Linked DNA regions of Homo sapiens: region 1 is linked to region 2. The links come from fine-mapping of genetic effects on gene expression. A gene starts in region 2. The other region holds a variant in brackets. All regions are shown on one strand. Distances are from middle to middle.

The links.
Region 1: its variant is fine-mapped to the expression of KCNG3 in monocytes (CEDAR, PIP 0.95).

Annotation. Positions count from the first base shown.
Region 1 is chr2:41,974,804-41,990,497 of GRCh38, forward strand. LOC105374517 (a long non-coding RNA gene) reads right to left here and starts at 13,877. Exons shown (of 3, transcript XR_940000.2): 1 at 12,451-13,877; 2 at 10,886-10,992; 3 at 8,553-8,907. RefSeq lists an enhancer at 13,336-13,505 and a silencer at 15,606-15,694. The variant TTG/T (reference allele first, on the strand shown) is at 9,289.
Region 2 is chr2:42,487,049-42,502,742 of GRCh38, forward strand. KCNG3 (potassium voltage-gated channel modifier subfamily G member 3) reads right to left here and starts at 6,934. Exons shown (of 2, transcript NM_133329.6): 1 at 5,789-6,934. The coding sequence starts at 6,453. It also overlaps a transcript of MTA3 not described here. RefSeq lists enhancers at 5,121-5,878, 5,879-6,636, 7,961-8,255 and silencers at 6,717-6,806, 6,987-7,036, 7,127-7,206.

The sequences.
Region 1 (15,694 bases), 510 kb before region 2:
TGCACATTCATGAATACTAATAGGGTATATTCCTAGAAGTAGAACTGCCAGACAGATCAAAGGACATGTGCATGGGGTTTTTTTGTTTTGATTAATATGCTAAATTGCTCTCTATAGGTGTAGTATTTATTTACACAGACAGCAACAATATGAGACTGCCAGTCTCTGCACATCTTAGGCCAACATGATGTTATACAACTTTTTCATCCACATTAATCTGATAATTAAGAAAATAGCATTTTATGCCAGGCACGGTGGCTCATGCCTATAATCCCAGCACTTTGGGAGGCTGAGGGGGGAGCTGATAACTTGAGGCCAGGAGTTCAAGATCAGCCTGGCCTATATGGCAAAACCCAATCTCTATTAAAAATACAAAAATTAGCCAGATGTGGCCAGCCTGGCCTACATGGCAAAACCCAATCTCTATTAAAAATACAAAAATTAGCCAGATGTGGTGGCGCATGCCTATGGTCCCAGCTACTTGGTGGGCTGAGGTGGGAAGATTGCTTGTGCCTGGGAGGCAGAGGTTGCAGTGAGTGGAGATCACACTACTGCACTCCAGCCTGGGTGACAGAGCAAGACCCTGTCTCAAAAAAAATAAATAAAAGAAAATAGCATTTTATTTTGGTTAAAACTTACATTTCACTTATTACAAAAAAGGTTGAGAAACTTTTAAGGTGTCTAAAAGTCATTTATACTTGCATTAGCTTCAAAAATATACAGATCCCTGGGTCTTATACTCAAAAGCCTGATTCAGTAAACCCCCAGATCAGTAATTTTTAAAAATATTCAAGTGATTGGGGTAAATATTTCTTAAACAAAATATAAACAGCACAAACCAAAAAGAAATGATCGATAAATTGTACTTTCATTAAAATTTTAAATGTCTGTTCATTAAAATAAAGTACAAAGTCAAGCAATAGAGTGGGAGAAAATCTTTGTTAAATGTACATCCCACAAAGAACTCATAACCAGAATATATGAAGAAAGCTCCTACAACTCAACAAGAAAGAGAAAAAATATAACAACATATCATTTTAGGTAGACCAAAGACATAAATAGACAATTTATAAATGAAGATATATGAATAACCAATACACATATGAAAAGATGTTTCTTTCATAACTCATCAGGAAAAGGCAAGTCAAAACCACAGTAAGATACCACTACCAATGGTACACTGGTAAATATTTAATAACTGATACTTCAGGGGAAAAAGCCTGATTTGCGGTTTTCTTGTTTTTTTTTTTTGGTGTGAAAACTCCCACCATGGCCAATTTCAAGCCACCAATGCGACATCACTGAATGCAGAATTGGGAAGAGGTGTATACAATTGACTCTCACAAGCCCCACAAGCTGGCTCCAGCACATCACTGAGATCACCGCAAACCCACCATGAAGGCTAAAATGAAAAAGATTGAACATATCAAGTTTTGACAAAAATATAGAGCAAGGAGAATGCTAACACACGGCTAGTGGGAGTGTAATCAGTTTAATCACATTGGAACGCTGTTTGGCAGTATCTACTAAGGCTATGATCCTATGTCTGATCCTATGATCCTGGAGGCTCCATAGAAATGAATGCATATGTGATGGTTTTTTTATGTGTCAACTTGACTGGGCCACGAGGTACCCAGACATTTGTCCAAACATTATTCTGGGTGTGTCTGTGAGGGGATATCTGGACAAGATTAACATTAGAATTGGTAGATTGAATAAAACAGATTGCCCTCCATGGTGTGGGTGTTCCTCATCGAATCATTTGAAGACCTGAATAGAACAAAAAGACTGAATGAGAGGGAACTCCTTCTGCCTGACTGTCTTGAGCAGGAACATCAGTTCTCTCTTACCTTTGGATTCAAACTGAAACATCAGCTCTCTCTGGGTCTTGAGCCTGCAGGCATTCAGACTGAAACTACACCATCATCTCTCCTGGGTCTCCGGCTTGCTGACTACAGGTCTTGGGATTTGTCAGCCTCCATACCCACATGATTCAATTCCTTATTTCATATATATATATATATATATATATATATATATATACACATATATATATTTTTTTTAAGTACTGATTTTTAAAAATATAGATGATAGATAGATAGATAGATAGATAGATAGATAGATAGATAGATAGTTAGACAGACAGACAGATAGATAGATCCTATTGGTTCTATCTCTCTGGAGAACCCTGACTAATACCACCAGGTAGCCACCAAAAAACATGCACATGAATGTTTATAGCAGCTTTATTTGTAATAGTCAACAAACTGGAAGCAATCCAAATGCCCATCAACAGTGCTACACAGTGCTAGATTTCTACCATGGAATACTATATAGCAATAAAGAAAACAAACTACAGATACACACAGCAACATGGATGAATCTCACAGACAAAAACATTGAAAGAAAAGGGCCAGACACAAAAGACTATATATATATATACACAAAAGACTATATATATATATACACAAAAGACTATATATATATATATATATATATACACACAAACTTTTAGAATAGATGAAATTGTTTTATTATGAGATAAGTTAGAATAGCAATTACCTTGAGGAGATTGATATAAACTAGGAGTACACATGAGGGAATGTTCTCCATATTGGAAATATTCTGCATTTTGATATCGATAGTAGTTACAAAAGTGTAAAATTTCACCCAGCTACACACTTAAGATTTGTACTCCTTTACTGCTTATACTATATATACCAATATATTTGGTTGGGTTTTTTGTATTTTGGGGATTTTTTTTGGAGACAAGGTCTTGCTCTGTTGCCCATGCTGGAGTGCAGTGGCGCAATCATATCATAGCTCACTGAAGCCTTGAACTCCTGGACTCAAGTGATCCTCCCACCTCAGCCTTCAAAGTAGCTGGGACTATAGGCATGTGCCACCATACCTGGCTAGTTTTTTGTTGTTGTTGTTTGTTTGGTTGGTTGGTTGTTGTTGAGACAGGATCTTTTTGGTGTTACCCAGGCTGGTCTCAAATTCCTGGGCTCAGGTGATCGTCCCACCTTCGCCTCCCAAAGTGCCAGGATTTACAGGCATGAACCATTGCGCCCAGCCCTCCAATATAATTTTTTACATAAAAATAAGTTTTAAAAACTACCAGGTATTTCTGATGATCAGCCTAGTACAGGAAACATTCGACTTGGGAATCTGTAAGTTCTCTTAAAGCTAACATTCTGTGAAGATGAGATGAAACAGAAATAATGGCGCCAGAGCAAAGGCAAGAAGAAGAACCAGAGAGTAGACACAGAGCTAAATAGGAAAGAAAGGGAGACCTACAGAAAATACATTAACTCGCCAACATTTGTTTAGCACCTGCTATGGGCAAGGCACAATGCTCGATAGCCAGAAGGTCAAAAATGAGCAAAGAGAAGCCCCTACCTGCAAGGAGCTTGCCTTCTTGTAGGGGACATAATTCTACATTACAAAGTACAGTGCAGTAATTGCTGAAAACCAGAGGCACCAACAGAAAGCTCCACAAGTGGAAAATGGCATTCAGTTGGGCATGGGGATGATCTGGAAAGAATCCACAGTGGAGCAGGTACTTGAACAGAGCCTTGAAGGATAGGTAGAATTCTGCTGGAGAGAGACAGCTGGAGGTAGACATGTATTAATTCTCTCTCATACTGTCATAAAGAAATACATGAGACTGGGTAATTTATAAAGGAAGGAGGTTTAATTGACTCACAGTTCCACCTGGCTGGGGAGGCCTCAGGAAACTTACTATCATGGTGGAAGGCAAAGGGGAAGCAAGGACTTCCTTCACATGGTGGCAGGAGAGAGAAGACAGAGCAAAGGGGAAAGAGTCCCTTTTAAAACCATCAGACCTCATGACAACTCATTCATTACCACAAGAATATCATGGAGGAAACCACCCCCATGATCCATCCATCCTCCCACCAGTTCCCTCCCTCGACACCTGGGGATTATGGGGATTACAACTCAAGATGAGATTTGGGTGGGGACACAGTCAGACCATATCAACGTCGATTGAGGATCCTTTATAAATGCAATTTAGACTGGCCAATGCCTAGGGCCAGTGTAACCTTTAAAATGGAAACTCACCAGACTCACCATAAGATGGATAAATAATCCACCCTAGAAGTGGCTAGCAGACGCAGAATGAACTCCAAATCATACCAAGGGACTAGAAGTTTCCCAAGGAACCATAAAAGAGACAATGTCCTCAGCACAGAGGGTAAAATATAATCATTTGTTGTTATCCTTAAAGAATAGGAAGGAAACTGCATGGAGACCATAGGCAATAAGACCAGGCCAACCAGAACGTGAACAAGGAAAATAGCAGTGACAAGGCAAAGGATGGGACACAGTAGAGTTGGTATCAATTGACTATGACTAGAATATTGCTCCCTGAGGATTAAGACTCTGTCTTGCTCATCAGTGAATTTCTGGGGCCCAGCATAGTGCAGGGCACAGAATACCTACACAATAATGTTTGTTGAATGAACTAAATAGGTGAGGAACAGACAAAGGTGACACCCATTCCCCAGGTTTAAAGTATGTGTGACTGGGAAAATGGGAACTCAGGAGCAGATGGTTTGGAGAGGAGAGAAGATTATGGGTGGACAGTTACAGAAGAAAGACTGGAGCTTGGACCGGAAATCTTACCAGCAATTTTTTTTTTTTTTTTTTTGAGATGAAGTCTCTGTCACCAGGCTGGAGTACAGTGGCGTGATCTCAGCTCACTGCAACCTCCGCCTCGCGGGTTCAAGCGATTCTCCTGCCTCAGCCTCCTGAGTAGCTGGGACTACAGATGCATGCCACCAGGCCCAGATAATTTTTGTATTTTTAGTAGAGATGGGGTTTCACCATGTTGGCCAGGATGGTCTCGATCTCTTGACCTCACGATCTGCCTGCCTCAGCCTCCCAAAGTGCTGGGATTACAGGCGTGAGCCACCGCGCCTGGCGCCTACTAGCAATTCTGCAGTTGAAGTCATCCTCCAAGAAATGACTGCTGAAGCTATCTGAGTAGACAGCAGAGGCATGGGGGAGAATGGACAGAAGAGAGCTGAATTTGAGAGTAAGAAACTACAGAAGGCAGCAAGAAATGAGAGACAGAAGAATCAGGAAAGTATAGCATCAGCAAAGTCAGTGGACGAGCTTTAAGAGGACGGCCCTGTCAGTTAATTCTATTTGAAAAATGATAGTTGTGTCCCTGCTCCCCAAGCAATCCAGAGACAGAAAAGCTTAGCAGACAAAGTGTGGACTTGAAAGTGAAACAGGCAGGCCTTGAATCCAAACACGGCCCTATGTCATTTAATAGTGAAATCCTAAGCAAGTTACTGAAACTTCTATTTCCCAATTGGTTGGGTCTTCTGTTTTCCAACTGGTTAAAAGTGGGAATTAATATGATCTATATCCAGGTTGCTGCAAGGATTAAGTGAAGGTATATGAAAATCAACAAAATATATGAAAATGCCAAGCACAGGGATTGGAACATAGTGGGCACTTGGTTCTTATTTATTCCTCTTTCCTTCCGTGCTGTGTGCTAGGATCTGGTGTTTGGGGAAAATGATGCTGAACAAGTAACACTTGAAATGCAATGAAGGGGAGGAGATCTAAGAGTATGCATGGACCCCGAATGAGGAGTGAGCGAACCATTGCACGCTGGTCAACCCAACCTGACAAAGCTGTCCCAGGTGCTTCAATTAGTAAGGAGATGTGAGTGACCCTGCAAAGAGCAGTTTTAATAGGATGGGGACAGGGTGGGATGAGAGAGCAGAGGCAGCGACTGTCTTTCTTGGGCAGCAAGAGGAATAGCCAACGAAGAAGTAACTGCAAAGACAGAAATGTGCGTGGGTTGGGAGCAAGCTGAATGTGTATATGTGCAAAGGAACCAGGAGGGAAGGAAAGATGGAGGAGGCAAGGGAGAAAAGGGCTAGTTGATGAAGGGCAAGTCACCCACAGAGGCAGTGAAATAAAATCAAGGAAGCATTCAAACCCAAGGCTGCTCCAGGTTTCATGACTTGGGCCTGTTGTTGGTATAACCTGATGGGTGGTCTTTAAGAAAAAGAAGGCAAGTTTACAAATACAAAATTAGATATGACTGTGTATTTTTTTAGAATAAGGAAATCATTCACAACATTTTTAAATTACATTTTTTAAATGTTTAAGCTGATAAATATCACAAAACCCAGAAAAATGGCATGTTTATTAATTAACTTCCTGACATACCTCTATAATACTTTCAGGGAAAAATGTATTTGTTTTGCTGTGTACTCTTTTATGGATTCCTCTTACATCAAAGGTTTTGTGGTATCGTTTTTTATAGAGGGTATAGAAAAATAACTCGGGCCAGGCACAGTGGCTTATGCCTGTAATCCAAGCACTTTGGGAGGCCAAGGTGGGTGGATCACCTGAGGTCAGGAGTTCAAGACCAGCCTGGCCAACATAGTGAAACCTTGTCTCTACTGAAAATACAAAAACTAGCAGGGCATGGTGGCGCTTGCCTGTAATCCCAGCTACTCTGGAGGCTGAGGCAGAAGCATCGCTTGAACCCAGGAAGCGGAGGTTGCAGTGAGCCGATATCGCACCATTGCACTCTAGCCTGGGCAATAAGAGTGAAACTCTGTCTCCAAAAAAAAAAAAGAAGAAGAAAGGAAGGAAGGAAGGAAGGAAGGAAGGAAGGAAGGAAGGAAGGAAGGAAGGAAGGAAGGAAGGAAAGAAAAATAACTTTCTTCTAGCATGCTTGGACAAAATTTGTTTTCTATTATTGATGGTTGAGAAGAATTTCTTTCAGCTTCATAACTTAATATTGGTAATACATACGTTTTTAGGATTGTCATATTTGGGAAAACCACTATTGAGGTCCTTTCATGTATGAGCTATAATATTTCAGGGCATGTCAAGTTTTCTTGCACAGTGACTCATCCTAAAAATTATTTAATTGACAATAGTCATTAGTTTGTTGATGTTCTCATTGTAGTTTATTATGAGTTTTATATTGTCTTACTGTCAGTATTTCATCTCAAACCAGCACAAAATTTAATATTGTTCATATGATTCAGTGATAACTTGAAAATCATAAACATGTGACCTTATAGGTAAGCATTCTAGCTGTGTGCAGGATTGTTGTAAATTTTTACCCTACAAACACATGAATTCTGATGAAATCATATTTCACATCAAGAAAAAAAATGTTTGATGCATTTATAATTGACTATATTCCTGGAAGGAAAGAATTTTTATTTTGACTTGGCATTGTTAAGAACCAATAACTTACAGTTTTACATTTCTAATGAAAAAAAAAAATTCCTGGACTAGCTTATGGTTCTGAAGTGAGTTGACTGATAGCCCCCAAAATGGTATGTCCACATCTTAACTCCATCAACATGTGAATTTGATCTCATTTGGAAAAGGAGTCTCTGCAGATGTAATTAAGGATCTTGGGATCATCCTGGATTACCAGGTGAGCCCTAAATCTAATGACCAGCATCTTTAGAAGAAACAGAAGAGAAGGCACGAACGTGGAGGAGACAGCTATGTGAAGACGGAGGCAGAGATTGGAGCTACACAGCCACGAACCAATGAACTCCTAGAGCCACTAAATGCTGAACGAGAAGAGGAAGGATTCTTCTCCAGAGCCTTTGAGAGGAGTGCAGCCCTGTCGACACATTGATTTCAGACTCTTGGACTCCAGAACCATGAGAGATTGTATTTCCGTTGTTTTAAGTCACTCAGTTTGTGGTAATTTGTTACAATGGCCCTAGGAAAGAAACTCATACCAGTTCTATACATTCCAAACCTGGTCTCCCTTTTACTACCCAAATATTGGGTAAATGGGGTTGCAAAAAGACACACTCATGATGTGAAATGCCCTCCAGCCATGCACCTCTCCATGCCAGGTAGTGCAGAGAAGGCCCCACGAGCCCTTCCCATTGTGGATGGCCAGCAACAACTTAAATACCCATTAAAGTGACTGCAGGCCACATAAATACATCTCACTAAACCCAGACTAAAAGCATCCCACACTCAACTTCCGCTTAGCTGGATCCCAGCAAATCTCCAAGGCCCTCCAAGGCCACTCAGCACAAACAGAAATGTGAAGGCAAGGAAATCAGAGTGGAAAGAGACAGACATCTTAGCGGTCATGGTTAAAATATCTGACTTCTGGGCCAGGCGTGGTGGCTCATGCCTGTACCCTTTGGGAGGCCAAGGCTGGTGGATCACTTGAGGTCAGGAGTTTGAGACCAGCCTGGCCAACATGGCAAAACCCTGTCTCTACTAAAAAAACAAAAATTAGCCAGGCGTGGTGGTGCACATCTGTAATCTCAGCTACTTGGGAGGCTGAGGCACAAGAATCGCTTGAACCCAGGAGACGGAGGTTGCAGTGAGCTGAGATCATGCCACTGTACTCTAGCCTGGGCAACAGAGAGAGACTGTCTCCAAAAATATATATAAATAAATAAATAAATATATATATATATATATATATATAAATAAATATATATATATATATATATATATATATATATATATATATATATTTTATCTGATTTCTGTAACTTTGCTAAAATATATCGCCCCTAGGACACAATACTAGGGTTCTTACCCTCAGGTCCTTGAGGGGATTTAAACAAGGGAGGGGCTCTGAGCTTAAACTCCTTGGCTTCATGAAAATAATCTCTGAGTCAGTCTCCAGCAAGAAAGACCACATCTTTCCCTGGGATCTCAAGTTTTATGGCTAACCGGGAGGCTTTCCAATGGACTCATTTTCTAGAAGGAAAATGATACTGACCTGTATGAATAGTTCCACGGAGACAAGAGCACAGGAAAAGTTGGGACAAGAAAAAAAAATCTGAAGGCGGCACAAAGGGCCTCTTTAATTACACTTAGAAGAAGGAAGGTGTGGATCCACTCTTGAGGCTGTAATTGGAGCAGAGGAGTGATATCAGTGGTCATGGAAGGAAGGGGACGATGTCAAATCCGATTTTGCTTCCATATTCTAGGAAAGATATAAAATCAGAAAGAGCAAATATTGTCAGTTGGTTCAGAAGCTGGAGTTACGTAACAAGGTTGCTTGAGTCTGAGGCTTTTCTAAACATGGATCCCTTGGCTCATGTCTTACATTCCAGGGACCCCCGAGAACCTGTAGATGAAATAGATCGGTAACTTCAATGCATCAGGAAGGTTGAGAGAGATGCTGGAATTCTATAGCTGAGCAGACATGGTTAGGACTTGTCCAAACAGAAGAGGCAGTTACTGGTAACTGTAGGCTATCAATCTCAGGCAAGATTCTAGAATAGA[TTG/T]TGTGTGTGTGTGTGTGTGTGTGTGTGCATGTGTGTGTGTTTGGGTATTTTCAGGGCAAGATTCCACAGTATCATCAGGTTCCTAGAGAAGTTTGTGACCCCTAAAATGGCTAAAACCCACAGGCAGAAGATTTTATTTGCGGAAAAAAACATTCAATCCTTGGGAAAGCTCTTCTAATTCCTTCCTTTCACAGGTGGTGAAACTGAGGACAGAGGGTGATAAGGGCTTGCTCAAGGTCATACAGCAAGGTGGTGCAAGAGTCAGAACCAACACACAGATCTTCAGACTCCCAGTTCAAGGTTTGCTCTTTCCTCAATCTCTCACTGTTTCCTATCACACCACCTTCCCTTTACATATAAACCATCGCTAGCTTTTTCCAAAACGCTTTTCACTCTTCATCAAAAGGTATCAAGAGATGCCCATGGGAGCAGGGTGTGATTCATGAGCTCTTCGTGCACAGCTGTCCCATTCCTGAGAAGGGTCTGACAGATTCTGAGCACGGCACTCAAGCCAAAAGGAATCCCTCTCGATTTAGAAATCTTCAGCCACTCCCTGGAAAATGAGGAATAGAGCCTAGGTATGTGGGAAAACCATGACAGGCACCTGAGCCTCAACAGATTTAAAAATTTTTAAACAGTATAAAAAAATTTTAAAACAGATTTAAAAATCATTTGGGGTTCTTAGAAAGGAACAACAGGGTCTTTGAACACAGAGTGGGTTCTTTAAAGGCTCCTCTGTCCTGCCAAGTTCATTTCACTTTTTTTCATAGACTGTTTATACTGCTGGATTAGGAGAAGAGAGTGGACATGGTTCATCTGAATTTCTGCTCTTGATAAAATTTCTTAGAATAGGAAAGAAGAAATGACAGGGATTATTTGAAGATTCAAAGATGCTTCCGTGTTCACATTTGTCCTACTCTGTTCAAACTTTTTTTTTTTTTTTTTTTGAGACGGAGTCTCACTCTGTCACCCAGGCTGGAGTGCAGTGGCACCATCTCGGCTCACTGCAAGCTCCGCCTCCCAGGTTCACGCCATTCTCCTGCCTCAGCCTCCTGAGTAGCTGGGACTACAGGCGCCCACCACCACACCCAACTAATTTTTTGTACTTTTTAGTAGAGACGGGGTTTCACCGTGTTAGCCAGGATGGTCTCGATCTCCTTACCTCGTGATTCGCCCTCCTCGGCCTCCCAAAGTGCTGGGATTACAGGTGTGAACCAGCGTGCCCGGCCCTGTTCAAACTTTGTATCAGTGATGAGGATGAAACTGATGGCATGTTTACTAAATTTGTATACAATATCAAGCTGGAATTATTGGCCTTTCCATTTATAAACTTTTGTCAAAAGCTTCTAAAGGAAGAAGCTAAGGGGATAAAAGGCACTTCTTCCTACAAGAGCTCAGAGTCCAAAGATAATCAACAAGGACACAATTATGATGCACCTGTGGCTTACGCTACCACAGAGGGATGCATGGGGACTATGGGAGCCCAGATAAATAGGCCCCCAGCGCCACTGGACTTGCCATGTGGGAGGCGACAGCTGAGAAGTCTGAGAAAACATAGAGGTTAGCCAAGCAACACTAGAAGAAGGGCAACCCACCAGAGGAAAGAGACATGCAGAGGCCCAGGTGCAGGTGGACATTGGTCTGTTCAGGAAGCTGATGTGGTTCTGGATAGCAGAAGCGCCAAGAGTTGGAAGGGAGATGTCTGGGAACAAGGCCACAGAGTTAGACATGGGGCAGATCCTGAAGGAACTGGTTAATGTTACTTTAATATGTGTATTTTTTGTTGTTGTTCTAGAATGAGGTATCACTTAAAACTTTGGAACAGGGCCTCAAGGAGCTCCCATGTGGTAGGGAACACAGATGTGGAGCTCTTTCAATGCAGCATGGAGAGTTGTGCACCAGAGTCAGCCACATGTCCCTCACGTCAAGCCTCATTTCTGGCTACTTCTCCTCACTCTACTCCAGCCACATGGGCCCCAAAGCATCGAGCAACTTCCAGCCTTTAGGACCATCATACCAGCTCTTCCCTCAGCCCAGAATGCTCTCCTACCCCTTTCCCCAGTCCTATATCCAACTAAATCCTTCAAGTCTCAGCTCAACTATTACTGCCTTACGGAAACCTAATTTGACTCCCCATTAATGTTTCTCTTGGCACTTTTTACTTTGGCAGCACTGATGACTTATACCTTTTAAAGAATATATTTATTTGTATTATTGTTTAATGCCAGAGCCCCTGAGGGCAAGGTTGAATATGTTTTGCTCATGACTGTATCCCTTGTGATGATATCAAAAACTTGTATCAGTTAGAAAGAAAGAAAGAGAGAGAGAGAAAGAGAGAAAGAAAAAATAATGAAGTTCCAGTTATCTACCACTGCACAACAAACCATCTCAACATTTTACAACTTGAAACAGTAACCATTGTATTTTATCCCCCAACTTTGTGGGCTGGTAATTTGTGAAGGGATCAGCTAGGCAATTCATGTCTTCTATGGTCTCCATGAAGGTCATTCGATGGCATCAGATGGTAAATGGTCTAGTTTGGAGGGTCGAAGCTGGCTTTGCTTACATTTCTGGTGCCTTGATGGCTGGGGGGCCAGACTCATTTAGAACTACTGATGTGAATGGCTTCTCCAGTATGTTGCTATAAATAGGTTAGTCAAACTTTCTACGAGGTGGCTCAGAGGGAGGATCCCAAGAGACCCGGGTGGAAGCTTCAAAGTCATGTATGACCTACCTTGAAAGTTCCAGACATTGACTTCCACTGCGTGCTACTGGCCAAGCGAGTCAGTAAGGCGATCCCGGATCAAGGGAGGGAATTAGAACCCAACTCCCATGTGTAGAATGTCGAAGATGTTGCAGGCATCATCTCTAAGCCACCACAATGGGGCGGGGGACAGGGGAATGACATTTATCCTTTCACAGTGGTCATCCTGACTATAGTGCCCAGAAAGAAAGAAAAAGGATGGAATATGCCTAGGGAGATCAATTCAGAACATAATAGAAATAAAAATACAAAAAAAGAGGGTTTAAATGGTATCTACTGGAAGAGAAAAGGAGGCATGAATTTGAGAGATATTTTAGGAAGCAGTAGAAAGGAACAGTAAGAGCATGGACTATGGAGCCACATCATCTAGCTTTGAATCCTTGTTCTGCCACATACCAATGGTGAGAGCTCTGGAAAACTAGTTGTTTTCTCTGGTCCTCAGTTTCCTCATCTGTAAAATAGGTATAATAATTGTACTTATTTCACAGGGTTGTTGAACAGATTATATGAATTAATACATGGGGGAAAAGAGCCTAAAACAGTTTCTAGGTATACTAAGGGTACAATAAATATTAGCTCTTAAAGGAAAATAAATAAATAAAACTTACTAGGAGTCAAGTTTCGTCAGAAAGCCAAGGCATGGCTAGGGGAAATAGGAAAGGTTCCCTCTATCTATGTGTTCTGTTTGTCAGTGATGTTGAGGAGGCATTTTAAGCTTCCAACTTTGCAGCTGTAATGTACTTTGGAGTGTTGCATACTCCCACACCACCTAGATATGGTTACTTGCTAGGTTTACTGAATTCAATACTAGTGAAAAAACGGGAGCAAATAAAAATGCATAGAGATGTTTGAAGTATGGAGGAGCTGAAGATGCTCTATAAAAAGACCTAAGTCCTAATAAAATACATGTAACTGCATTAGCCTGAGGGCCTGGTCTTTCCTGCTCTTCCATCTTTTAACTGACATTGACCTTGCATCCACTCTCTTCCAGTCCCTGTGCCAGGTTCTGGGGATACGGTATGAACAAGACACTGTCCCTACATTTAATCCATAAACAAAGACATGCAATGCAGTGTCACAAGGGCTGGATCTGGGAGATGAGGGGACCCTGTAGATGCATGTGAGGGGACATTCCAGGCTGATGAGTGGCATCCACAAAGCTATGGAGGCATCTGGGGTTGGTGCTTAGGGTAGCATCGGTGTGACTAGAGTGTGGGGAACAGTGGGCTTGGCAAGAGCAGAAGCCCAAGGGGCAGCATTCAGGCCATGGCGATGTCTGCAGTGGTAGGCAATGGGCTGCGGGCATGTGGGCTCTTTATCTGGGTCTGCCTGCTGTCCTTCTGCAGAAATAGCCCATAAAGGCACTGAGATGCTGCCTGTCTAGCCCTTCACAGAGACAGAGGACCGGAATCAGTTTATTGCCATTCTCAGCTACTTCTTCAAAGTGCTTGAAGAGAGCAAACTGGTCATCCGGGCACCAGGTACAAGGACAGGAGGAGTTTGTGTCTGGCCATTAACGCTCACGGGGACCCAGCAGGCCCACTGTGTGCCTCAGATCCTGAGACTAAGTCCTTTAGTCTTACCCTAACTTCCTGGCAGTGGAGGAGGATAGACAAACATCTGAACCCTCTGCTGCCTTCACCCGCCTGCCTGCCTCTGTGGGAGCCAGAAGAGATGAACCCCAAGGATGGGTCTTGCCAAGCTTCCCACGAGTTAATACGTGGCACCTAAACCCCAAACCCCAGAGGGAAAACAGCATGCCCTTGCCTCATTCAGCCTAAAACTGCATGGCAGGACCAAGGGTTTGGCTCCATGAGAATGTACATTGAGGAGTGGTGTGTTAGTCCTTTCTCATGCTGCTATAAAGAACTGCCCGAGACTGGGTAATTTATAAAGGAAAGAGGCTTAATTGACTCACAGTTCCACAGGGCTAGGGAGGCCTCAGGAAACTTACAATCATGGGGGAAGGGGAAGCAAACACCTCCTTGTTCACATGGTAGCAGGAAGGAGAATGCCAAGCAAAATGGGGGAAAGCACCTTATAAAATCATCGGATCTTGTGAGAACTCACTATCCCGAGAACAGCATGAGGGTAACAGCTTCCATGATTAAATTACCCCCCACCAGATCCCTCCCACAAGACTTGGGGATTATGGGAACTACAGTTCAAGGTGAGATTTAGGTGGGGACACAGCCAAACCCTATCAGGTGGCAAAATCCCCAGATGGAGTTTCCCCACCAATGAGCATCCAACAGTCCAGCAAAGCACCTGATCCAGCCCTAATGCTGACCCCAACAGCAACCACACACTGACCCCAGCCTTGCATGGAACCCTAATCCAACCTAACCCTAACCTTACCGGACCCTTACCCACTGTGCTTTAATACCATAGCAATCTGAATCCAAGTCCCCAGCCTCCCTAACCCGATGCTCACCCTGAATAAAATAACTAAAATAACTTCAACACCAACATCCACTCCAATAAATCCTAGATTGCCTCTCAGCCCTAATTTTAGCTCCGATTCCAACTTCACCCCAGGTCAAAGGAAACACAGAAAGGAATGGTCTCTGGGGAGAGAAGTGCTGCTGCCCCACAGTCTGGTGGTCTTGACCGACAGCTGTCTGCCATATGTAGCTTGAAATGTACCTGGAACAATTGTCCTTTGGGTTTAAAATCTGATAGAAGACTACTGCCATTATGAAAGGATTTAATACACAGAAATCTCTTTGGAAAGAACCAGACCTTAGAAGTTCATAGTTGAGAAATAGAGGCATTTGAGTTATTTCCTCTGTGAATAGTAGACAGGGATGGAAGTTCTTAAGAAACTCTTCTCCTCCAACCCCTGATCTGCAGGAGTCATCAGGAAATGGGATTATCTTCAATTTATAAATGATGAATAATTGCCAGTTCTAAGCAGAGAGAGGAAGGGGGTACTGTGTCACAGACAGGAGAATACAAAGGGAGAAGCTAGATTTTTAAAAGAGACACCAGCATGTTTAATTCTTACTGTTCAGCCTCCTCCTGAGCCTGGAAGGCTGGTGCTGGGTGCCCAGCCTGTGGCCCGTAGGGTAAATGAGGGCTCCTGAGCCTGGCTCAGAGCGTGAGGCCCCAGGGTAAGTCCCAGAGTTGCACTCTGCTGGAGAAGGCAGAGGTCAGCCTAGAAATGTGACACCAAAATGGGCTGTCAATCAAACAGAAGAGAAATAACAGAGGCTGAGACACAAAGCCCAAAGGCAGAATGGCAGGAGCCATCAGGGCCAGAAGGAGAAACAGCGGGTTGGGACAGGAAAATGGGGTGGGGGTGGGGGAAGGCAAGCAGTCTGAATTCAACCCAAGGGTCCAAGGCAGCACCTCAAGAGCTTTTACACAATTACAGCACAAGTGCACATGGAAAAGTCAGATTCCTTTTTTAATAACTCCTTTCTCAGACTCAAAAAATTTAGAAGATTTAGAAAGTACAAAAAGTGTATAGACGCCAAGTAAAACGAACTACAACCCTTGACTTGAGTGACGCTCATTTAAAGAGGCAGGACATTACTAGGACTTAAATTGTTTCAAGAATTTATCCCTTTACCCTCAAGTTTCAGCTACTAACATCTGAAAGAAAAAAAAAATACGGCTCTCTTACTTTGTCCAAGAG
Region 2 (15,694 bases):
TGGGAGGCTGAGACAGAAGAATCGCTTGAACCCAGGAGGCAGAGGTTGCAGTGAGCTGAGATCGTGCCACTGCACTCCAGCCTGGGTGACAGAGCAAGACTCTGTCTCAAAAAAAAAAAAAAAAAAGAATTCACAATTTTTTTTAATCATTATGCATTTTTGCTCAACAAATAGATAGTGAAAGTGCAGCTACTATGTTTTAGGCAATTGTAGTTGTCTTTTAATGGGGTCCTAAATTAGAAAACAAAGTATTTGCAACTAATATCATAAAAAGAGCTAATTTCTTTTTTTTTTCTTTCTTTTTTTTTTTTTTTGAGATGGAGTCTTGCTCTGTCACTCAGGCTGGAATGCAGTGGCGTGAGCTCAGCTCACTGCAACCTTAATATTATTTTTAATCTTCAAACTAAGAAAGTCATTGACAAAACCAGAAAAAGGTATAAATATCTCATTTTTAAAAGCAAGATGAATGACTCCTCAATATATGTAAAGATGCAAAATCTTGCTCAAAATAAAACAAAACTACTGGATACCATTTTTCACTTTTCAGCATAGTAAAGATCAAATACTTTGCAGAGTATGCAGAAACACGCTCTCTCCTATATTGCTGGTGGAAGCATAAATTGATACAGTACAATCTTTTTGGAGAGTAGTTTGGAATTATCTGTGAAAATTACAAGTGCATATCTCCTTTGACCCAATGATTTAACTCTCAGGAATGTATCCTATGGATATACCTGCATAAAAGAAGTAAAATATATATGAACAGGATAATCACTGCAGCGTTTACTACAGACAAGAAACGACATAAATGTATAGTGACTATGGGCCATCTCTACAGTAGAATACTACGAAGCTGCAGAATCAGGGAGCTCTTGGACTCACATGGAATGATCTACATGACACACTGTTAGTTAAAAAGCAAGTTTCAGGACTGTGTATTACACTGTATTTCTGGCTTTTGTAAATATATATAATGTACTTACAAATATATAAAATGTCTCTGAAATGACAAACCAAAAACTAGTAACTTTGGTTACATCTAGGGAAAAGAACTGAATGGCTGGAAGAATGGAGAAAGGCTTAGTTTTGTAGCTTTTAGATTTTGAACCGTTTTTATATGATTATTAACCATCTAAAACAAATCAATTTAAAAGGATTATCCTCATACATAAAAAGTTCTAAAATATTGCTTTGGAAGACCTAAGATTTCTTCCAAACTTTAGATTGTGCACTGTGCCAAAATTTCGGAGGTTCATAAAAGTAAACCATACTCTTATCTTTATTCCTTTCGTACCATTAAGTACTTGATAAATAATTGTTCCTTGATTTTTTTGTTGTTTTGTTTTGAGACAGGGTCTCCCTGCTGCCTAGGCTGGAGTGCAGTTGCTGAATCATAGTTCACTGCAGCCTTCAACTCCTGGGCTCAGGTGATCCTCCCACCTCAGCCTCTGGAGTAGCTGGGACAACAGGCTGTTTCCTGATAGACCTTATTCATTTTCTTTTCTTTTTTTTTTTTTTTGAGACTCAGTCTCACTTTATCGCCCAGGCTGGAGTGCAGTAGCGTGATATCGGCTTACTGCAACCTCCGCCTCCCAGGTTCAAGTGATTCTCCTGCCTCAGCCTCCTGAGTAGCTGGGATTGCAGTCACCCACCACCACGCTCAGCTAATTTTTGTATTTTTAGTAGAGACGGGGTTTCACCATGTTGGTCTGGCTGGTCTCGAACTCCTGACCTCAGGTGATCCGCCTGCCTCGGCCTCCCAAAGTGCTGGAATTACAGGCGTGAGCCACCACGCCTGGCCCCAAACAGCATTTTAAATTATACAATAGAAGATATAGTTCTGGAAGGTTATATTTTGAAATGTTATATAAACAATAGATATTTATGGTGCCTGAATAGCAATTTTTGCGGTAGTGGAGAAATGACAACTCTGGCAAGTACTAAGAATTATTTCCTAGTATTTCAGCTGGGCACAGTGGCTCACACCTGTAATCCCAATACTTTGGGAGGCCAAGGTGGTAGGATTGCTTGAAGCCAGGAGTTCACAACAGGCCTGGGCAACATAGTAAGACCCCATATCGAACTCCTGACCTTGTGATCTGCCCACCTCGGCCTCCCAAAGTGCTGGGATTACAGGCGTGAGCCACCACGCCTGGCCTGTGAGACCCCATGTCTACAAAAAATGTTCTTAATTCACTGGGCGTGGTAGCTCATGCCTGTGGTCCCAGCTACTCCACAGGCTGAGGTGGGAAAATCACCTGACTCCAGGAGTTCCAGGCTGCAGTGGGCTTGATCGCACCACTGCACTCCGGCCTGGGTGACAGAGTGAGATCTCTTCTCAATCAATCAACAAAAATACAAAATAAAAGATGTTTTAATAACAAATAGTATAAGAGAATTTACCTGCCTTCTAGGACTTTTTATCTAATCCAACTTAGGAGCCAGGATATGTTTATATGAAAATATAACCATCACGCTAAGAAGGATATCATAGATGCCAAATAAATAGTACAAATAAGCAATTCCTTAAGGAGTTCAGGAGGAAACATCACATCCACTAGGGTGATCAGTAAATGCTTCAAGAGAGGAATAGAATCTGAATTGGGCTTGATGAATAATCCAATTTCAGCAGGCTAGGCATTGCACAGTAAGGGACATTTGAGTGGCTCAGGAAGAAGTAAGCAGGCCAGGCTGGACAAATGAAGACTGCAAGTGGCAGAGGATACTGTTAACTCCTGGAAAGTCCACTTCATCAGTCCCTGATGCCTGTGCCCTTCCAATGCCCTGGATTAATTTTGACTCTTCCTGGTATTTTCCAGAGTTGTCATTTCTCCTCCATTTCTCCACCACCACAAAGCCATCCAAGCTCTCATCCCCTCCCTCTGGGAAGATCTCCAACTCATCTTCCTGTGTACAATCTTCCCTCTCTCCAAATCACAGAACACATGTACCACATGTACTACTTTATATGCATAACCCATTTACCCTAAACACAAAACTGGCTAATGGCTAGCCACTGCCTGCAAAATAAAATTATTCTCCCTGGAATTCAAGGCCTTCTGTCATCTGCTCTCTATCCACCTCTCACTCCATCACTGGACTCACGCTTCCATAAACTTCATATACAAGTTTCTTGCCCACGATGTTCCTTTTATCTTAAAAAATCTCTTTTATTTTGTTCCCAGGCAGGGCACATATGGTTGTACAGGTTGCATTAACTAGAATTTATATAAATGACACTCCCTGGCCAGGCGCGGTGGCTCACGCCTGTAGTCCTAGCACTTTGGAAGGCCGACACGGGTGGATCACCTGAGGTCAGGAGTTCGAGACCAGTCTGACCAACATGGAGAAACCCCATCTCTACTAAAAATGCAAAAAATAAAATAAAATAAAATAAATGACACTCCCTGCTAGTTTGGGCAGTGCACAACCTCTGCAACCTTCCAACCATGGTTTGTTTCCATCCTCCACCACCCTGAAGGCCTTCTCTGAACAACGGAACTCTCAGAGATCAATTGTGCCTCTGATTCCTACACCACCAACTTGACACCAACTTTTCTTTACAACAGAAAGTTACAATATTTGGAACACCAGCAGTGCCTTGAACATAACAGATATTCAAAAGATGTTTGCAAACTATGATGGAGTAAGTCAAGATCGGCAGGTTGTCATCAAACTGTAAAGAGCCTTGAAGGCCAAGAAAGAAGTTTTGGCTTTATTTGGCAGATGCAAAATATGGTCAAATAATGAGAATGATGTTTTAGAAAGACTAATTTCAGCAACCACAAGCAAGCAGGGTTTTAACGACTATACTTAAAGTGACAGGTTAAGGGCCCTCTCTGTTGAAGGGCAGAGGGGAGCTTCCTCTGTAATGAGCAGCATCCTCATTCGGCCATCCTGCAGTTTATCTGTTTGGGATTGCAGATATTGGTTTTCATATACCTACACTCAGACAGTGAAGCTAAAACTGGGCCATTAAGCTAAGAAAAACATGCTTTTGCCTGAAATATCTAAGTATCTAGGAAACAGCTCTGACTTGAATAATTATACACATACATAAAATACATATACACAAATAAGCATTACTTTTCTCCCTTCACTTCTTTTGCAGTCTCCCTCTTTTCCATCTCTGTCTTCCCTTTTTTGTTTCTTGTGTTTCTCTCCCTAAAATTACTATGCATTTCTCTCATTTCTTTACAAATGCTTTACATTAATGATCTCCATATGGCCCTTTCCCTCTCCCAAAACACCCTCCCTCCCCCTAAGATTATATTTGAGGTATTTTACTGGTTTTGCTCATATACTGGTTCAGTCAACTCCCTCATTATCTGCACTAATAATAATTCAATTCTCCTGTTTCCTTTGCTAATGTAGCTCAAACCTTCACTAACCTTAGAATTCTACAGTTACTGGAGAATCAAAATTCCAAGTCCATTTTCCTAAAGCCCTCCTTAAAAAAAAAAGGCATTTATGTATTTAGGTAAATAAATTAATTTCATTGTATTGTTGGAGAACCAAATAAGTAACTCTTATCTGTAAATTCAAAACTGTTAGAACCTAATTCACTAAACAAAATGAGTTTCCTAATGAATTTCCTTTCAAAGCATGTATCTTCGATTTCAAGCCAAGAAGAAATAATAGACTCCGTGGCACTAGACAATTTTATTTACTTCTTAGATTTATATAAAAATCCTTACTCCCTACAGGAAGAATATTATGTAGAAGTAATCCACTGCAATAGCAAGGCCGCCGTTCCGAACATGTACATGCCTATCAGTAAAACATGACAGGGCACAACCTTAAATTTAAAAAATGAATGGAAGGAGGATCTTAAGACAGTGTCAAACAGATAAACTATAATATGCAGTTTGGGTTTTGTGCCCCAAAAGGCTGTCTTCTTTGAAAGTCCATCCTTAGTCTGCTTATTCCTCCCACTGAATATGCTCACTTGTACTAAAAACAGGAAAGTGCTATCACCACTTCAAGGTAAGACAGTCTAAGAAAAGACTGCAATATTTTCCCATTCATCCTAGTAAAGTAGAAAAAAAAATTTACCCAAATACTGTTTTCTGGATTTAGGACAGTTTAGATTTTTCTTTGTTCTCAAGGTAATGGTTTTTTCCCTTCCCATATCATAGACCCTCTGAAAGTCGCAGTGTGAATCTTTGCTACCAAACGGTGGACAAGAGGTTTGCTAACTCCATACTTTGTAGGAAAAGGGGGAAGAAAAGGGCACAGACATCCATTATTTAGAGTCTATCGATAAATTAACCTGCTTTATAATATAACGATTCCATTACAGCACATAGTATGCCGGGGGCAGAGTGTATAGAATGTGTGGAGAGTGCACATTTCACCATAACAAGAATCCATCTTTCCAAACACTACCAAAAATTGGCAAATAATTCAAACTGCGCTTAGTTCAAGGCTTAATTGTTGAACCCTAACAATAAAAGTTCAGAAAAATGTAATTAGCAGGTTGCTCTCTGCGCAAAAGTAAACTACAAAGAGGGGACATTTGTCTATCTCTACACGCCCCTCCCCATGCCTGAGGATTTCGCCCTCAAGAGGTGCGTCTAGTGTAAGGGCCAGACCCCGCTGGTGCCCCGGACAACGGGGTAGGAGTGGGGACCGACCGGTCCCGTAGTTGGCCGCGCCTGGGCCTCGCTGGGCGCGCACCCCGCTGGCTCGGTCGCCCGGAGGCGGACAGGACGGAGACGGGACGTATGGACGGGACGGACAGACGCGACAGGACGGACGGGACGGGTAGAGAAGCAGTGCGTCCTACCCGGAGGGCTCCCTCCCAGGGCCGGCGGAGTACCTGCTCCGGTCATCCAGGCTGCGGTTGTCGGCGGCTGCGTTGCGCCAGTCGGGCAACGTGCTGGCGCACAGCACCACCATGGACACGATCACGAACACCACCGACACGCTAGCCAGGATCTGCGCGGCCAGCGACGACGTGGGCTCCTCGAAGGTCCGCCGCATGCGCTCCAGCCAGCGCCTGGAGGGAGCCGCCTCGGCCCCGCCGGGGCGCGCCTCGTCGCGGCCCAGCACGCCCGGCTCGTCGGCCGAGTAGAAGGTGTAGGTGTCGGACATGCGGTCGTCGAGGCGGCGCTGGCAGCAGTACTCGAGGTGCGCGCCCTCCAGGCCCCAGTAGATCATCTCGTTGTAGAAGGAGAGCTCGCACATCCGCGGCGCGAAGCGCAGCTTGCCGTGGCCGCGCACGTAGAGCAGGATGAAGCCGAAGGCCTCCGAGTGCCGGTCGAAGAAGTACTCGTTGCGCTCGCGGTCGTAGTCGTCGCACACCTCGAGCACGTCGCGCTCGGAGCGGCAGCCGTGCAGCCGGCTCACGCGGCGCAGCGGGAAGTCCTTCAGCAGCTCCCGGGACAGCGAATACCGGGCGCCGCCCACGTTCAGCACCACCGAGGCCGCCCCGCTGCGCCCGAAGGTCATGGCTGGCCGCCCGGGGGACTTTCGGCCCGAGGGCCCCGCTGCAGCCCCCCACCCCAAGCCGCCACGCGGGGCCTGCCTGCCCGTGGCTGACGGGGGAGCGCGCCGTCGGGGCCCGCGCTCCCTCGGGGCTCCGCTCCTGCCCTCCGCTGGCCCGGGGGTCCCTGGGCTCGAGTATCTCCGGCGCTGCTAGTAGCGCGCCCTCCGCCCGGCGGTACCTGCGGGTGGCCGGGGAGTCCTCGCCGGCGCCAGCGCTGAGCCCCACCGGCTGGGAACGCGGCTGTGTCCGCGCCGCCGACCCTCGCGCCCGAGGGCTGCGCACACCGAGGCCGCGGTGCCCTCTCCCAAGCCGCGGGGCCGACCCCCTGAGGGCTGCGGGCGCCGAATGGAGCCGCCGGGGCGGAATAGCTCCCCGTCTCCGGCGCTCCCTGCGGCCGCGAATCCGGCGGCCGCCCCGCCGCCGTCCAGAGGCGAGAGGCAAAGTGAGCGGGTTCGGAGGCGGCGAAGAGCCGGCTCGCGGCGGCGGGGGCGGGGCCTCTGTGCAGTCCTCCTCCTCGCCCGCCGGCTCCGCGCGCGCCGCTCACCTCCCTCCGCGCCGCCCTCCGCTTCCCGCCCGCGCCCGCACCTCCCCGGCTTGCTCGGGCTGGGATTCCCGGGCGCCCCGCCCTGGACCTCGGGCTCCCCGCCTCGTGACGCCGTCCTCCCCCTCCGCTCCGGCCCGTAGTGGCGGGGAGGGGTCCGCAGGGCGGGGGAGCGGGGAGCCCAGCGCCGGGATGCCTGCTCCCGCGTCCTGCCCTGGGCCATCGGGATGAATTGGGCAGTCCCCAGGGCCCCTTTTAACAGCCCTGGTTCAAAGCCCAGTGTGGACTCGGGTGCGGGGACAGACGGCGTTTGGAGAGCTTTTTCCAGAAACTGTCCGGAGCCCAGCTCGGGTTCTGACATCGCCCCTAAGGATTTCTCAGGGAAGGCATCCCAGCCACGGCTTTTCCTGCCGACTTTGCTCTTCCTACCGCCGCGCGGGGCGACCCACGTACCGCGTGCTCAGAGGGCGGCTACACGCCCCATCCCCCAGCCTCGGTGCCGCCTGCCAGCCCGCGGAGGGAAGCGGTCCCCGACCCGGCCCCGGCCCCCACGTTCTGGGGCGCGAGTCCTGAGAAGGCGCCTAACGTGTAGCGCGCCTGGACCCTCTCGAGATGCTGCCCTTAGAGTGGGATGAAAGTCTGGGGAGGAACGCCTTGTCACCGGCAAAAACAGCCTTTCTCTTGGTCTTCGTCTGCATCCTCCTTTTCAAAATATCTTGATTTCCCCCGCGCACCCCTGACCCGGCTGCAGCACCGGCCCTCCGAGCGGGAAGAGCCCCGTGAAGGCTCCGCAGAGCGATCTACCCCGCGCTCTTGTCCGTGCCCAGAAAGCGGGTTCCACTTGGCAGGGATTATTTTAAACTGCTACCAGCAATTCATTCACCTGACACCCGACACCGGCAGCCCAGCCCGCCGGAGGCGAGACAGGTGAGTTGTAAGGCGAACCGTGTTAGATGCAAAACAAATACTAGAAGAAAAAAATAAGGGTGGGGTAGGGTGAGATGCGGTCATCTGACCACAGGGTAACCTGGCTGGTTAAAGGGAAGAGTTTTTCATTGCCCTCTACTTTTCGTAATTTTGTAGGATTGTCCGGTGCCCGCTAGAGGTCGCCAAACGGAGTCCTTTTGCGCTGGTTCTTAAGTGGATTCCTAGTGAAAAGGCAGACAACTGAAAATGTGAGTGCTGTCTTTTAAGTAAAATCACTCTCGGTGGCTTCTTAAAGAATGAAAATCTCTGTGAGTTGTTTATCCCCAGACTTGGATAATTTATCTTAAGAGCACTAAATGTGATTAAAAGCTCAAAAACAGGAGTTATTTGCTACTTTAGTATCTACTAAATAGTTTGCTATTCAGTATCTATTTTGCTATTTAGTGTCTACTGGGTAGATACTGCTACTTTGCTGTTTAGTATCTACTAAGTAGATATTAAACAAGAAAAATATCTGTAAGAAAGTGAGTTTCAAGACAGAATTGGAGGTGCTGATGGCCATGAGTTGGCACAGAGAAAGGGCAAAACATTCCTAGTAGCAAAATCTCGAATGTGGAGGTTTAAAGTCTGTGAAGAAGTATAATGCACTTGCCCACTGAAACAATGGGGATCTCAACTGCAGCATTTAAATTGGATCCCATAAGCAATGGAATCCCTGGAGGTTTCCATAGCAGAAATGGCTTGATGAAAGCTTTATTTCAGGAAGATGCCTTTGCACTTTGGGTCATTCTAAGGAGAAGGTCATTTCGCAACCCAGGAATGGGATCCCCAACCCCGTGTCTGTGAAGATGAAGAAGGGTCTGTTCTGAGAAACGCTGAGACCAAGAACTTTGCAGGTCTTGAAGATGGATTTGTTGTAGGACGTGAGGATGGGGAAAAGTTTGCAGATGTGAGCCAGAGATGAGCCTGGCTTGATACCAAGAGCCAATTCATCAGGAAGCCGTTAAAAAATACTTTCTAGAAGCATCACAAGCAATAGAAGACAGAACTATAGTGCCGATTGTTTGCTCTAACATTATTGTAGGGTTTATTTCCTGTGTTCTCTCCGTAGAATCCTTCTACTGTCTGTTGATTGAACCAGTTGAAGAAATATCTCATTTTAAATTACATTTGAGCTTAGAAAACAAATTAATTTGATGACAATACAATGTGTGCCTCCTAGGTATATTTTCATGCGATTTCTTAGAGAGATAGGCTTAAATCATTTCATTTGTTTCAAGAGTAATATTTTTATTTGATTTTAATATCATCAACCACTGCTGCAGCAGCAATACCCAAATCGTTTTCTTAAACAAAGAAAACAGTGATGCAGAAATGATAGGCTTGTCTCAATATAATCTGGTTTAGAGAGCATTCTTAAAGCCAATTCTATTCTTTGTACTTTGAGAAGATAATGTTGAGAAGTATTACATCCAGATTCTCTCCTAGACTCGGGATGGTATTTAGGGTCTTCATATCTAAATCTTTAGAATGCATTACAATTTAAAGGTAGAATTTTAGAGTTTGAAAGAACCTAGAGGTTTTCTAGTTTCAGAACCTAGGAAAAAAAAAAAAAAAAAAAAGCAAATTACTCCCATTTTTTCCTCCCCTCCGAAGTTACAAAGCTTCAGAGATGTGGCTGTAACTAGCCCGAGCATTCCCAGCAGCAGCATCCTGGCAGAGGCTAGAATCAGGTTTTCTCATGTCAAACTCTGCTCACTCTGTTTCCAGGGCCTGGATTGCTGCCACAACCTTCTACCTCATCTCTTTGCACTCCAGTTCTTTCCTATCTCTATGAATTCTGAATAAGGCCACCACAGAGCTCTTCCTTCCATCCATTTTCATCAGGGCATTCCCAAATTCAAAAACCTGAAAGGTGGCTGGGTGTGGTGGCTCACGCCTGTAATCTCAGCACTTTGGAAGGCCGAGGCAGGCAGATCACCCAAGTTCAGGAGTTCGAGACCAGCTTGGCCAACATGGTGAAACCCGTTTCTACTAAAAATTCAAAAAATTAGCCAGGCATGGTGGTGCACACCTGTAATCCCAGCTACTGGGGAGGCTGAGGCAGGAGAATCGCTTGAACCTGGGAGGCAGAGGTTGCAGTGAGCTGAGATTGTGCCATTGGACTCCAGCCTGGGCTACAAGAGCAAAACTCCTCTTGAAACTAGAGGTTTTCAAAAAAAAACAAAACAAACAAAACCTAAAAGGAGTATATAAAAGTAGATAATTAGAAATTGTCCATACAATAAAGTCCAAATTGGCCAGGCGCGGTGGCTCATGCCTGTAATCCCAGCACTTTGGGAGGCCGAGGCAGGTGGATCATGAGGTCAGGAGTTCGAGAGCAGCCTGGCCAAGATGGTGAAACCCCGTCCCTACTAAAAATACAAAAATTAGCTGGGCGTGGTGGTGCGCCCCTGTAATCCCAGCTACTCAGGAAGCTGAGGCACGAGAATCGCTTGAACCCGGGAGGCAGAAGTTGCAGTGAGCCGAGATCGCTCCACTGCCCTTGAGCCTGGGTGATGGAGCGAGACTCCATCTCAAAAAAAAAAAAAAAGTCCAGATTGTCTATAGGGCTCTCTCTAGGCTCAAACCCTGGCTGTATAACTCATTTGCTAAGCCACCTGGAGCCAGTTCCTTAAACCTCATTGATCTTCAGTTTTTCTCCTCCGTAGAATGAAGATAATAATACCTACATCCAAAGGGGTAATGAAAAGATCACAAGCTGATGTGAAGGTGGTATATAGCTCAGTGCATGACACTAGAAACATCTCACTTCATGTATGCTTCCTTTAGCCCAAATCAGCCATGCTCATTTCTCATTCCTGGGTTCTAAATAAACACAGATTGGATAAGTGAATTGATTTGTCTAAACATGTGACCAACAACAGAGTAACCTGAAACAAAAAATTCAGTAAAAAGTTGTGACCCTTTTACTGCTGACTCTGGCTTGAACACAGATTCCTCCATCACTTTGCATTGCATAACTGGATGTGTTCGAGGACTCCAAACACCGTTTCCCCCAAAGCTTTAGAAATTGAAATACCCTGTGGGCACTACTGTTCCATGCAGCTTACTTATCAACTCTGTCTGCTTTAAAAAGCCCTTGCCCTGCTGTTAATTCATATTTTTCAATGTTTGCATTTACATCAGTTTATTTCTCAGCCTCTGCCGAATCAGTTGGTACTTTTAAAGACAGCTTTTCGAATGGAAATTCAAATGGAAACTTCTCTCATTTTAAAATATAAAAGGCTAATGACTTAGCCCAGTGTGCAGAATGACCCCTGTAGAAGGTGTTCAGAAGACCACCAGGATGGCTGAATGGTAGAAAGGAGAGCTTTATTGTTGTTATCAGTTTGCAAGCCAGGAAGAGAAAGTCTCCGGTGTGGACTGAAGGTGCTCTCTCTTCAAAGAGGGAAATAACAGGTTGGGTTTTAGGCCTCACAGGGCCTGTATCATACATAGTCAGCAGGCTTGGGGGAAAAGCTATACATACTTACGGGGGAGGCGCACACATGCATAATTGGTACACATATATGTAACATACATCGTGTTCACTTTGTGATGGGGCTTTAGCATTAAAATGAGGTGGAATTTGGCTCTTTATGTCAACAGGTGAACTACAGGCCACAAAGACAGCTTGTGTGCTGCCTCTGTAAGCTGGCTGAAACTGACCTGGGGTCTGCAGCAGCTCATCAGAAAAGAATGTTTGTAATGGCTGTCTATCCAGACAGAGTTGTTGTCATCTGGGTTGTATAACAGAATTGAAAACTCCTATTTTTAGGGAGTTTAGCCACAGTAATTTAGAAATTTGCCAGCCAAGCCCTGAGCCCTTGACCCATCAGTAACTTGGTTTCCTTATCTTAGGGTCTGTCTTAGTTTATTAAGGGGCATCTATTTTCGTCTCTCAGATTACAAAGGTAGAGCTGTAACTCAATAGCACTATGAGGTTATCCCAAGATTCAGAGTGGTCTTGTTTACAGAGCTCTAATACAGGGAGGTATAAGTCAAAGGGTATGAAGTTTCAGTTATATAGGATGAATAAGTCCTAGAGATCTACGATGTGGCATAGTACCTATATTCAATAGTACTATAATGCATACTTAAGCATTTGCTAAGAGGGTAGATCTTTTTTTTTTTTTGAGACGGAGTTTCACTCTTTTTGCCTAGGCTGGAGTGCAATGGTGCGATCTCAGCTCACCGCAACCTCCGCCTCCCAGGTTCAAGCGATTCTCCTGCCTCAGCCTCCTGAGCAGCTGGGATTACAGGCATGCACCATCACCCCGGCTAATATTGTATTTTTAGTAGAGACAGGGTTTCTCCATGTTGGTCAGGCTGGTCTTGAACTCCCAACCTCAGGTGATCCACCCGCCTCGGCCTCCCAAAATGCTGGGATTACAGGCGTGAGCCACCACGCCCGGCGAGGGTAGATCTTATAGGTGTTCTTATCATTTCAAAAAAAGGAATAGTGGGACATGATGGCTCATGCCTGTAATCCCAGCACTTTCGGAGGCCGAGTCAGGCAGATCACGAGATCAGGAGTTCAAGACCAGCCTGACCAACATGGAGAAACCCCGTCTCTACTAAAAATACAAAATTAGCCGGGGTGGTGATGCATGCCTGTAATCCCAGCTACTTGGGGAGGCTGAGCAGGAGAATCGCTTGAACCTGGGAGGCGGAGGTTGCGGTGAGCTGAGATCAAGGCAATGCACTACAGCCTAGGCAACAGAGGGAAAAAAAAAAAGGAATAATAAAAAGACAGAAAGAAACTTTCAGAAGTGATGGATATGTTTATGGCATAGATTGTGATGACAGTTTCAAAAGTGTATACTCATCTCCAAACCCAAGAAGTTGTATACATGAAATATGTACAGTTTTTTGTATGTTAATCATACCTCAATAAAGTGTTTTCTTTTTTGAAAAAAAAAAAAGAGAGAGAGAGATGGCTGGGCATGGTAGCTCATGCCTGTAATCCCAGCACTTTGGGAGGCAGAGGCAGGTGGATCATTTGAGGTCAGGAGTTTGAGACCAGCCTGGGCAACATGGTGAAACTCTGTCTCTACTAAAAATACAAAAATTTGGCCGGTGGCTCACGCCTATAATCTCAGCACTTTGTGAGGCTGAGGCAGGTAGATCACCTGAGGTCAGGAGTTCGAGACCAGCCTGGCCAACATAGTGAAACCCCATCTGTACTCAAAATACAAAAATTAGCTGGACGTGGTGGTGGGCGCCTGTAATACCAGCTACTCGGGAGGCTAAGGCGGGAGAATCTCTTGGACCTGGGAGGCGGAGGTTACAGTGAGCCGAGATCACGCCACTGTACTCCAACTTGGGTGACAGAGTGAGATTCCATCTCAAAAAAAAAATTAGCTGGGTGTGGTGGCACGTGCCTGTAGTCCCTGCTACTCAGGAGACTGAGGCAGGAGAATCGCTTAAACCTGGGAGGTGGATGCCAGTGCACTCCAGCCTGGGTGACAGAGGCTCTCTCAAAAATAAACAGAGAAACAGAAATGAGAGATACAAGAAAAAACGTAAAAGTTCTCAGATATCTAAGGCTGAGGCAAGAAATATGTGTAAGGGAGGGGAAAAATTTTTTCCTCTACCTTCCTAGGTTCTTGGCCTATGCTCCTACAAATTAGACTGACAAAAGATAAATTAACAAGAGAAACACAGTTTATTAGAAACACTTTATTAACAAGTACAGCATAGTACATTACACCGAGAAAATCAAAGGGTTGTTAGTATCAAAATCAAGAGGCTTTATGAAGCTTTTTTTTTTTTTTTTTGAGACGGAGTCTCACACTCTCGCCCAGGCTGGAGTGTGGTGGCGTGATCTCGGCTCACTGCAAGCTCTGCCTCCCGGGTTCACGCCATTCTCCTGCCTCAGCCTCCCGAGTAGCTGGGACTGCAGGTGCCTGCCACTACGCCCGGCTAATTTTCTGTATTTTTAGTAGAGACGGGGTTTCACCGTGTTAGCCAGGATGATCTCCATCTCCTGACCTCATGACCTGCCCACCTCCGCCTCCCAAAGTGCTGGGATTACAGGCATGAGCCACCGCGCGTGACCTGTATAGCATCTTAATAAAGAATAATAAATTTGCTACGAAGTAACCAGCTAAAGGAAAAGGAGTTTAGGCTTTTAGGGGTGGCAAACTATGGGAAAGTAAACATGTCAGGAAACTAACAGAAGGTAAGTGTTGTTTTATAAGATGCATTATGCATTACATAGATTCCTCTGGTCCTATCTCTAGGCTGATAAGAGGCTAGGGTCTCCAGTGGTTAAGAATCTTTCTTCCTTTCCTAGTAGAGAAGAGGAGGGCATAATTTTTTTCTTATGTCTGATTCTTCTCAATTGCCTTTAGCTCAAAATAATCCTTACCTCAAAATGGCATATTTTGGGAGGCATATTCTGATTCCCTGCATATGGCATGGAGGCCATTATTGTATTGTCAGCCAACCCACTCCTAACACTGTAGCTTCATTAAACTTAACATTTAGGTAACATTAAAGTTACCTAACTGAACTTGAGTCCACTACCCAATGCAGTAAAGTCAAACACTGGCATCAGGATTGCAGCGAGACAAAGTGAGGCATTTATTACAGAGTGCCAAGCAAGGAGAATCGGACAGCCCATGCTTAAGACCTGAATTCCCAGCTGGTCACGGTGGCTCATGCCTGTAATTCCAGCACTTTGGGAGGCCGAGGCGTGTGGATCACTTGCGGTCAGGAGTTTGAGACCAGCCTGGGCAACATGGTGAAACCCTGTCTCTCCTAAAAGTACAAAAATTAGATGGGCCTGGTGGCGCATGCTTGTAATCCCAGCTGCTGGGGAGGCTAAGGCAGGAGAATCACTTGAACCTGGTAGACAGAGGTTGAGGTGAGCCGAGATCGTGCCACTGCACTCCAGCCTGGGCAATAGAGTGAGACTCTATCTATCTCAAAAATTAAAATTAAAATTTAAATTTAAAAAAGACCCAAATTCCCTGATGGCTTACAGGTAAGGGTTTTTAAAGTCAGGAAGGCAGAGGTTACAGGCAAAGTCATAAATCAATACATGGAGGCCATACATTGGTTTGACCTGAAAAGGGGGGACATCTCAAAGTGGGGGTGTTGGGGGTGGCCAACAGGTCATAAATGGATTCAAAGATTTCCTGATTTGCAATTGATTAAGGAGTTGAAGCTTTGTCTAAAAATTTGGGATCAGCAAAAAAGAACGTTGGCTCTGGCCTGCAAGTGTGACCTCCTCCAGGACCCTCAGGAAGAATTTTAGAACAAAGAATGGCAGTCTGAGTTCAGTTGTTAGTCCGCCATCTGAGGTCTGTGTGCCAGTGGATGTGTTTGGTGGAGGTACGGGTTTCTGAAAAACAACTCAGGGACATATGTGCAGATGTTATCTTTACTTTCTATAGGGAAATAACATGCCATGATTCTAATTTCCTTAGCTATTATTGTTATTGGAAAGGGGTCCCAATCCAGCCGGGTGCGGCGGCTCATGCCTGTACTCCCAGCACTTTGGGAGGCCAAGGCAGCTGAATCACCTGAGGTCAGGAGTTTGAGACCAGCCTGGCCAACATGGTGAAACCTCGTCTCTACTAAAAATACAAAATTAGCCGGTGTAGTGGCGCATGCCTGTAATCCCAGTCACTCAGGAGGCTGAGGCAGGAGAATCACTTGAACCCTAGAGGCGGAGGTTGTGGTGA